Homo sapiens: one gene and its partner. The protein of the gene in region 1 interacts with the protein of each later gene in a biochemical or structural test. Each region holds a gene or a part of one and is shown on either strand. Other genes may lie near its edges.

Region 1 (3,824 bases):
TGGAGGATTATAAGCTTCATGCCCCACACCACTGAACAGGGAGTAAATTATTAATCCCTGAATCAAACCCCACCCAGAGCTCCCACAGAGTACCTTGTCTATGGATCATGCCACCATGAAGAATTCTGGCCACCGTACAGGACTGTTTTTCATTCAGCTTCAGCGTGATTCCCTGAAATAAAGGCGACGGCACAATAAGCTTTATTTTAAGCTCTTTCTGAGGTTATTTTAGAAAGAACTTACGGTAATTTCTCAGGAAAATATTTTCCATTTATACCCAGGATAGTCCTCAACTAGAACAGGCATGAAGCCTGCTTTGAGGAGGAATTTGAGATAAGAATGAAAAGACAATTTTGGGGTTGGCCAATTCCCTAACTCCATGAGCAGCCTCTTGCATTGACTCTTCTGGCCCAGTGACTCATGGGGCAGAGAGTAACTGGTGGGCGACAATATGACGGGGGATTACCATGGGCTCTTCTGTGACCTTCTCAAACTGTATGAGTCGCACTTTCCGCACCTCCTGTCCCTTGACCTGGGCAGGGCTACCTGGGGCAGGAGACCCGTTGGTGTACATGTCCTCGGTCACAGTATTCAATGGATGCGATACAGCCTGCCAAGCCAAAACAACAAAGCAACGTATGAAATCAGGAGCAAGGCCCACAGCCAGTCCACAATCTGCAATTCTAACATTCAAGAGGCTCTGAAAACTTATTTCATAAGTTTGGCCTCATTCTTATTTGAATTGACATGAAGCTGTTTGTAAGCTTTATTTCTCCAACTTAATAGACATGTCAGCCAAGTGTGGTGGTGTGCACCTGTAGTCCCAGCTACAGTCCCAGGGCAACAGAGTGAGACCCTGTCTCTAAAAATAAATAAAATAGACATGTTTATCTAGGTTGCTGCAGAAATATTAATGTGCCTTGATTTACATGGTGCTCTCCTGGATCCTGCTTGGGGTATTACATAATATATAACAAAATTAGAAAGATTCTGAATCCTGCGGCACCTCAGGCTCCAAGGGTTTCTGGCATGTTCTCTTCTCCTTTGTATTTCCTTGAACAACCTGATGCTCTCGGTCACACAGCAATAAAGGTAATTCAGGTTAGCATCAGTTTCTCATGAATCACCCCTTAGGCTACAAAGAACTTCTACCTGTAGAATTAGGCACTTAGGACTGGGCCCCGAACCGCGGTGATAACAATAATACATTGCCACTGTGACTTCTTCCCCTGATCTCAAAGACAGCAAAGCTAAATGAGTTACTCTACCAGGCAGCAAGGCCTCTTTATTATAAATCTAAAGTAATTTAAGGCACTGTGGTAAGAAGAAAGACAAACGACCCATGTAATGGAACAGAGAGTGCAAAAACAGAGCCACACATTTATAGTCAGGTGACACTGCAGTGCAGCGGGGAAAAATGGTCTGCACGATAAATGTCATAAAAGGTCCCGAGTATAAAATGAAAACTAAAAAGACAAACACTTTAAAAGTAAGAAGTCTATTCATCAAAAAACTCCACTGAGATAAGCATAGATTTAGTAGACGAGACACGGAGCAATCATCATACAAGCAAACAACTGACTTCATCAAATTCAAACATCTTACATAAGAAACTAGACAGGTATGACACAGCCTGAGAATAAACATTTGCAATATTTACATCTGACAAAGGATTTGTATCCAGAACATATAAAGAACTCTTACAATTTAATAACAGGATGAAAAGAACCATAAACAAATCCTGAACTTGAGCCAATGATATGCATGCTGAAGCTTTCAGGGGTAAAGTGCTCTGATATCTGAAACTTATTTTGAAATACCAGGAAAAAGAAGGTGGATAGATGGGCAGTTTTTGGATAGAAATGTGATAAAGCAAACACAGCAACATGTTAACTGTAGAATCTAGGAGGTGTGGCTATATGGGTGTCACTATAAAATTCTTTCATCTTTTTGGCGCCATTCCAAGAGCAGCCAGTACTCTTTAAAAAATATTATAAAATTTAATTTTTGAACCATTTGAGAGTAATCTGAAGACTTCATTCTCCTTTACCCATAGATGTCTCTATATGTTAGGAACGAGCATTTTCAAAACTGAAAATTTAACATTGACACAATATTGTCATCTGCCAACCCTTTCAAGAATGTCCTTTATAGCTATATATTTCTTCCCCAGTCCAGAATCCAACCTAGGACTTTTTGGTCCCAGAATCCAATCTAAGACCAGAATCCAATCATGCATTTCACATTTCCTTACTCTTCCTTAATTTGGAAAATTTCCTCAGCCTTTCTTTTTCTTCTTTCATGACCTTGACATTCTTGAAGAGTACACACCTGTTATTTTGTAGATGTCTCTCAGTTTGGGGTTATCATCTGATGTTTTTTCAAGATTAGACTGGGATTTTGCATTTTTGGCAGGAATTCCAGGAAAGTAGTGGTGTGCCCTTTCCAGAACAACACTACTCTTAAAAGCCCAAACCTGAAAATAGCCCAAAAGTCCATCAACAGTAGAATGGATAAACTGAAGCATATCCAAGTGGATACCCTACATCAATGGCAATGAATGGCTACTGCTACACCACTCCATGGTAGATCACCTGTGGATCAGTCTCACAGGTGATCACTCTCTTCTCCTTAAAATGCTCCTTCTCAGTTTGCTTTGCTGTTCTTTCCTCATCTTACTGATCTGGGTAAGAGCAATCACAATGGGGAAAAACTATGGAAACCTCTGAAAATGCTCCCTGCCCACCCCAGATAAAATATTAAATCAAAAATGATATAGCCACCTGGAGGAGGAGGAGGAGGACGAGGAGGAGGAATAGGCCTGAAGTGGGCTTATGGAAGGGTCTGCTGAAAATAGGGGATAGCTGCATTCCAGTCACACCCAGAGGTGACCCTCAAAGACAGTAGGGAGGGAAGATCTTCCCAATAGGCAGAACTGTGAGGAGTGTGCCATTCACTGTGTGGGGAAGGAGAAGGGTCCCTAGATGGGAATAGATGGTATGCCTGAGCAGTGTCCACTGGCCTGCCCAAGGCCTAGAAAAGGACTAGAAGATGAGAGAGAAGGAAGTCTGGAGTAGAGGCTTACATCATTTCTAAGGGACTCTGATTTCTAAGTAGAAACTTTGATAAGATGGTGAGGTTTGGGCCAGGTGCAGTGGCTAACACCTGTAATCCCAGCACTTTGGGAGGCCAAGGTGGGGAGATCGCTTAAGCCCAGGAGTTTGAGACCAGCCTGGGCAACATGGTGAAACTCCTGCCTCTGTAAGAAATTTTAAAATTAGCTGAGTGTGGTGGTGCAAGCCTGTGGTCCCAGCTACTCAGGAGGCTGAGGCAGGGGGATTGCTTGAGCTCAGGAGTTGGAGGCAGCAGTGAGCCATGATCACACCACTACACTCCAACCTGGGCAACAGAGGAAGACCCTGTCTCAGAAAAACAAACAAACAAACAAACAAACAAAAAACATGGTGAGGTTTGAAGTAGTATTCGCTATCAGGTGACCTCAAATGAGGGAAGTACTGAGAAAGAGAAACTGCCTTCTCTAGCAACTAGAACTTCAAAAAACTCACATGACACCAAGTCATATGGCATTGCTGTTATAACAAAATTGTCTAAGATAGGCTTATATTTAAAAAATTGACTTATGATACCCGGGATACACCATGTAGGTAGGAAAAGGAGGTTCTGAGGGTGATCTTGAAGATTTATTGTTAAGCAAAAAATAATAATAATGTGATGAAGGGTATACTAGCTTCATCATAAACAGTGAAAGAATGATTATATTCATATTTGCTTAAAAATCCATAAACTGGCCAGGTTCAGTGGCT
Region 2 (3,824 bases), on another chromosome or scaffold:
TGTTTGGATGCCAAACTTCTGCTAGGTTTCAATCCCTGCTACATCCCTGGGGATAAGTTGTTCTCTGGGAGATAACAGTAGATCTGCCAGAAAACTCTTCACCAATGGCCCAAAGTGCTGACTTCATGGTTAAGTGGCATGTGGAAATAAATGGCATTCAGAAAGCAAAGGGTCACCAGCCTGGTGGCCAATGAAGTGACTCATACTTTGGGGGCTCCTTGAGGCACTTTGTGGGTGACCGGGTAGAGGAAAAATCAGTGCAGCAAAATTCTCCAAGGCACTGAGTCCATGAAAACAAGGCCCTGTGAGATTCATTCCCCTCCATCCCACTTCCTCTGGAAGCTCAGAGACCAGCTCCGTTTCACATTCAAAATATGTCACAATTTCAGTTCCTTTTATCTGTGTTTCTGTTTTGATCTCCAAGAACTTAATTCACCTTGACTTTTTGAAAAAAAAATTCTGAAAGCACAAGACCGTTCTTGGAAGGCCAGGAAGGTCTAGAAAGCTTGGCATTTCTGACATGACATTTGGAGCCTGTTACAAATAAACTCTGAGTTGTCAGCTTGGGTCTCAAGAGTAAACTCTCAGTGATACTTCCCTGTTCTGGAGGGCCGTGTTAATTCAGCACTCTGAGGCCTCTGGGATTTTGAGGAACAAATGTGTTGCAGAATCCTCTCTGCACAACTTCAGAGAGCTTATTCTGTCAGCCTTTGCAATAACAACAGCTAACACTTAATATGGCACTTTCTCTGGTCCAGGCCCTGACCTAAGTGCCATTCATGTATTATCTCACTTCATCCTTACAACCCTATGAAGTAAGAACTATTATTAGCATTACCCCTTTCTTTTATTTATTTATTTAAATTAATCTTTTTTTTTAATTTTTCTTTTTTATTGAGACAGTGTCTTGCTCTATTGCCCAGGCTGCTCTTGAATTCCTGGGCTCAAGCGATCTTCCTGCCTCAGCCTCCCAAAGTGCTAGGATTACAGACATGAGCCACTTTGCCTGGCCGCATTACCCCCTTTTACTGATAAGGAGCTGACGCCGAGGGAGATAAAGTCATTTTCCCATGGTCATAGAGGTAGTCCGTGAACAAATCAGGATTTAAATCCTGAGGTTGCTGCTCTGTTACTGCTTCCCTGCAGCTGAGAGCAACACCTGTCATGCTTCTCACCATTTTTTATCATTAAATCATTTCTCAGCCTTGTTTTTATATATTTACTAGTGCCCTGCAAAAATTTTGCCTCCTTAATGCTTGTTCTAGGTCCCAATTCTGAGGTTTAATAATAATAGTTAACATCACTGAGCGCTCACCCTGTATGAGACAACTCACATTTATTATGCCATTTATAGATGGCATAACTGAGGCTCAGAGAAGATAGGTCACTTCTGCAAAATCTCACAGCCAGTAAGTGGCAGATGTGGCCTGCTACCTTACACCAACTGTCTCCTGTGAACACTTCTATTTATTTTAATTTATTTGTCAAATTGACAAATAATAATTGCATATTCATGGGGTATATATTGATGTTTCTATACATGTAATGTATATTGATCAGATCAGGGTAATTAGCATATCCATCATCTCAAATATTTATCATTTCCTTTTGTTGGGATCGTTCAATATCCTCCTTTGAACTAGTTGAAACTATTTAATACATTATTGTTAATTAGAGCCATCTTACAGTGGTATAGAACATTAGAACTTATTCCTCTCATCTAGTGGTAATTTTGTATCCTTTACCAAATCTCTCCCTTTCCCCCACTCTTCCAGGCCTCTGGTTTCCTCTGTTCTACTTTTTACTTCTATGAGATCAACTTTTTTTACTATTCCACATATGAGTGAGAACATATGGTGTTTGACTTTCTGTTTCTGGTTTAGGAAATACAATGGACTTAACATAATGTCCTCCATTTCCACCCTTGTTGCCACAGATGACAAGATTTCATTCCATTTTATGGCTGAATAGTATTCCATTATGTATATATACCACATTTTCTTTATCCATTCATCTGTTGTTGAACACTTAGGTTGATTCCATAACTTGGCTATTGTGAATAGTGCTGCAGTAAACATGTCAGTGCAGACATCTCTTAGGCAAACTGGTTTCAAAGCTTTTGGGCAAGTACCCACAAGTGAGACTGATGGATCATATGGTAATTCTACTTTTAGTTTCTTGAGGAACCTCCATATAGTTCTCCATGGTGGCTATACTACTTTACAGTCCCACCAACAACACATGAGTTCCCTTTACTCCACATCCTTGCCAACATTTGTTTTTTCATCTTTTTGATAATAGCCATCCTAACTGGGGTGAGATGATACCTCATCGTGGTTTTGAGTTGCAAAATCATCACTGATGATTAGTGATGTTGAACATTTTTTCATATACCTGTTGACCATTTGAATGTCTTCTTTGTGAAATGTCTGTTTAAATCATTTACCCATTTTAAAATTGAATATTTTGCTGTTGAGATGTTTGAGTACCTTGTATATTCTGAATATTAGTCACCTGTCAGATTAGTAGCTTGCAAATATTTTCTCAAATTCTGTAGGTTATCTTTTCACTCTGTTGATTGCTTCCTTTGCTGTGCAGAAACTTTCTAGTTTGATAATCCCATTTGTTTATTTTTGCTTTTGTTGCCTGTGCTTTTGAGGTTTTATTCACAAAATCATTTCCCAGACCAGTGTTCTGAAATGTGTGTCCCATGTTTCCTTCTAGTAGTTTTTATCATTTTGGGTCTTATATTTAAGTCTTTGATCCATTTTGAGTTAAATTTTGTAGAGTGAGAGGTTTGGGCCTAGTTTCATTCTTCTATAGACATCCAGTTTGCCCAGAACCATTTATTCAGGAGACTGTCTTTTCCCCAATGAGTATTCTTGGCACCTTTGTCAAAAATCAGTTTGCTGTAGATATTTGGATTAATTTCTGGATTCTCTATTCTGTTCCATTGGCCTATGTGTCTGCTTTTGTTAGTAACATGCTATTTTGGTTACTATAACTCTGTAGTGTATTTTGAGGTTTGGTGGTGTGATACTTCCAGCTTTGTTCTTTTTGCTCAGGTTTGCTTTAGCTATTTGGGTTCTTTTGTGGCTCCATACAAAGTTTAGAACTTTTTTCTATTTATGTGAAGAATGTCATGGGTATTTTGATAGGAATTGCATTGAATCTGTAGGTTGCTTTGAATAGTGTTGTCATTTTGACAATATTAGTTCTCCTCCATGAGCATGGGTTGTCTTTCCATTTGTTTGTATCCTCTTCCATTTATTTCATCAGTGTCTTGTAGTTTTCCTTGTAGAGGTCTTTCACCTCCTTGGTTACATTTCTTCCTAAGGTTGTTTTTTGTTTGTTTGTAGCTGTTGTAATGGGATTGCCCTCTTGATATTTTTTTTCCAGCTAGTTCATTGTTTGTGTAGAAAACACTACTGATGTTTGTATATTAATTTTGTTTCCTGCAACTTTATTGAATGATTTATTAGTTCTAAGAGTTTTTGGTAGAGTCTTTCTATATATGAGATTATCATCTGTAAACAGGAACAATTTGACTTCTTTCTCTTGAATATGAATGCCATTTATTTATTTCTCTTGCCTAATGACTCTGACTAGGATTTCCAGTGCTATATTGAATAAGAGTGGTGAGAGTAAGCATCATTGTCTGTCCCTGTTCTTGGAAGAAAAACTTCCAACTTTTTCTAATTTAGTAAGATGTTTGCTGTGAGTTTGTCACATGTGGCCTTTGTTATATTGAAGTACTTTCCTTCTATACCTAATTGTAAGAAGTTTCTATCATGAAGTGAGCTTAAATTTTATCAAAAGATTTT

Evidence for each region.
Region 2: the proteins of MPP1 (region 1) and CYSLTR2 interact in a test that uses a peptide from one of them, tested with the Homo sapiens proteins (one large-scale study listed by IntAct).

The regions. Positions count from the first base shown.
Region 1 is NC_000023.11:154,791,676-154,795,499, forward strand, and holds part of MPP1 (55 kDa erythrocyte membrane protein), read right to left. Parts: intron 611-3,824; coding exon 467-610; intron 173-466; coding exon 94-172; intron 1-93. UniProt on the Homo sapiens protein: Essential regulator of neutrophil polarity. Regulates neutrophil polarization by regulating AKT1 phosphorylation through a mechanism that is independent of PIK3CG activity.
Region 2 is NC_000013.11:48,660,240-48,664,063, forward strand, and holds part of CYSLTR2 (cysteinyl leukotriene receptor 2), read left to right. Parts: intron 1-3,824. UniProt on the Homo sapiens protein: Receptor for cysteinyl leukotrienes. The response is mediated via a G-protein that activates a phosphatidylinositol-calcium second messenger system.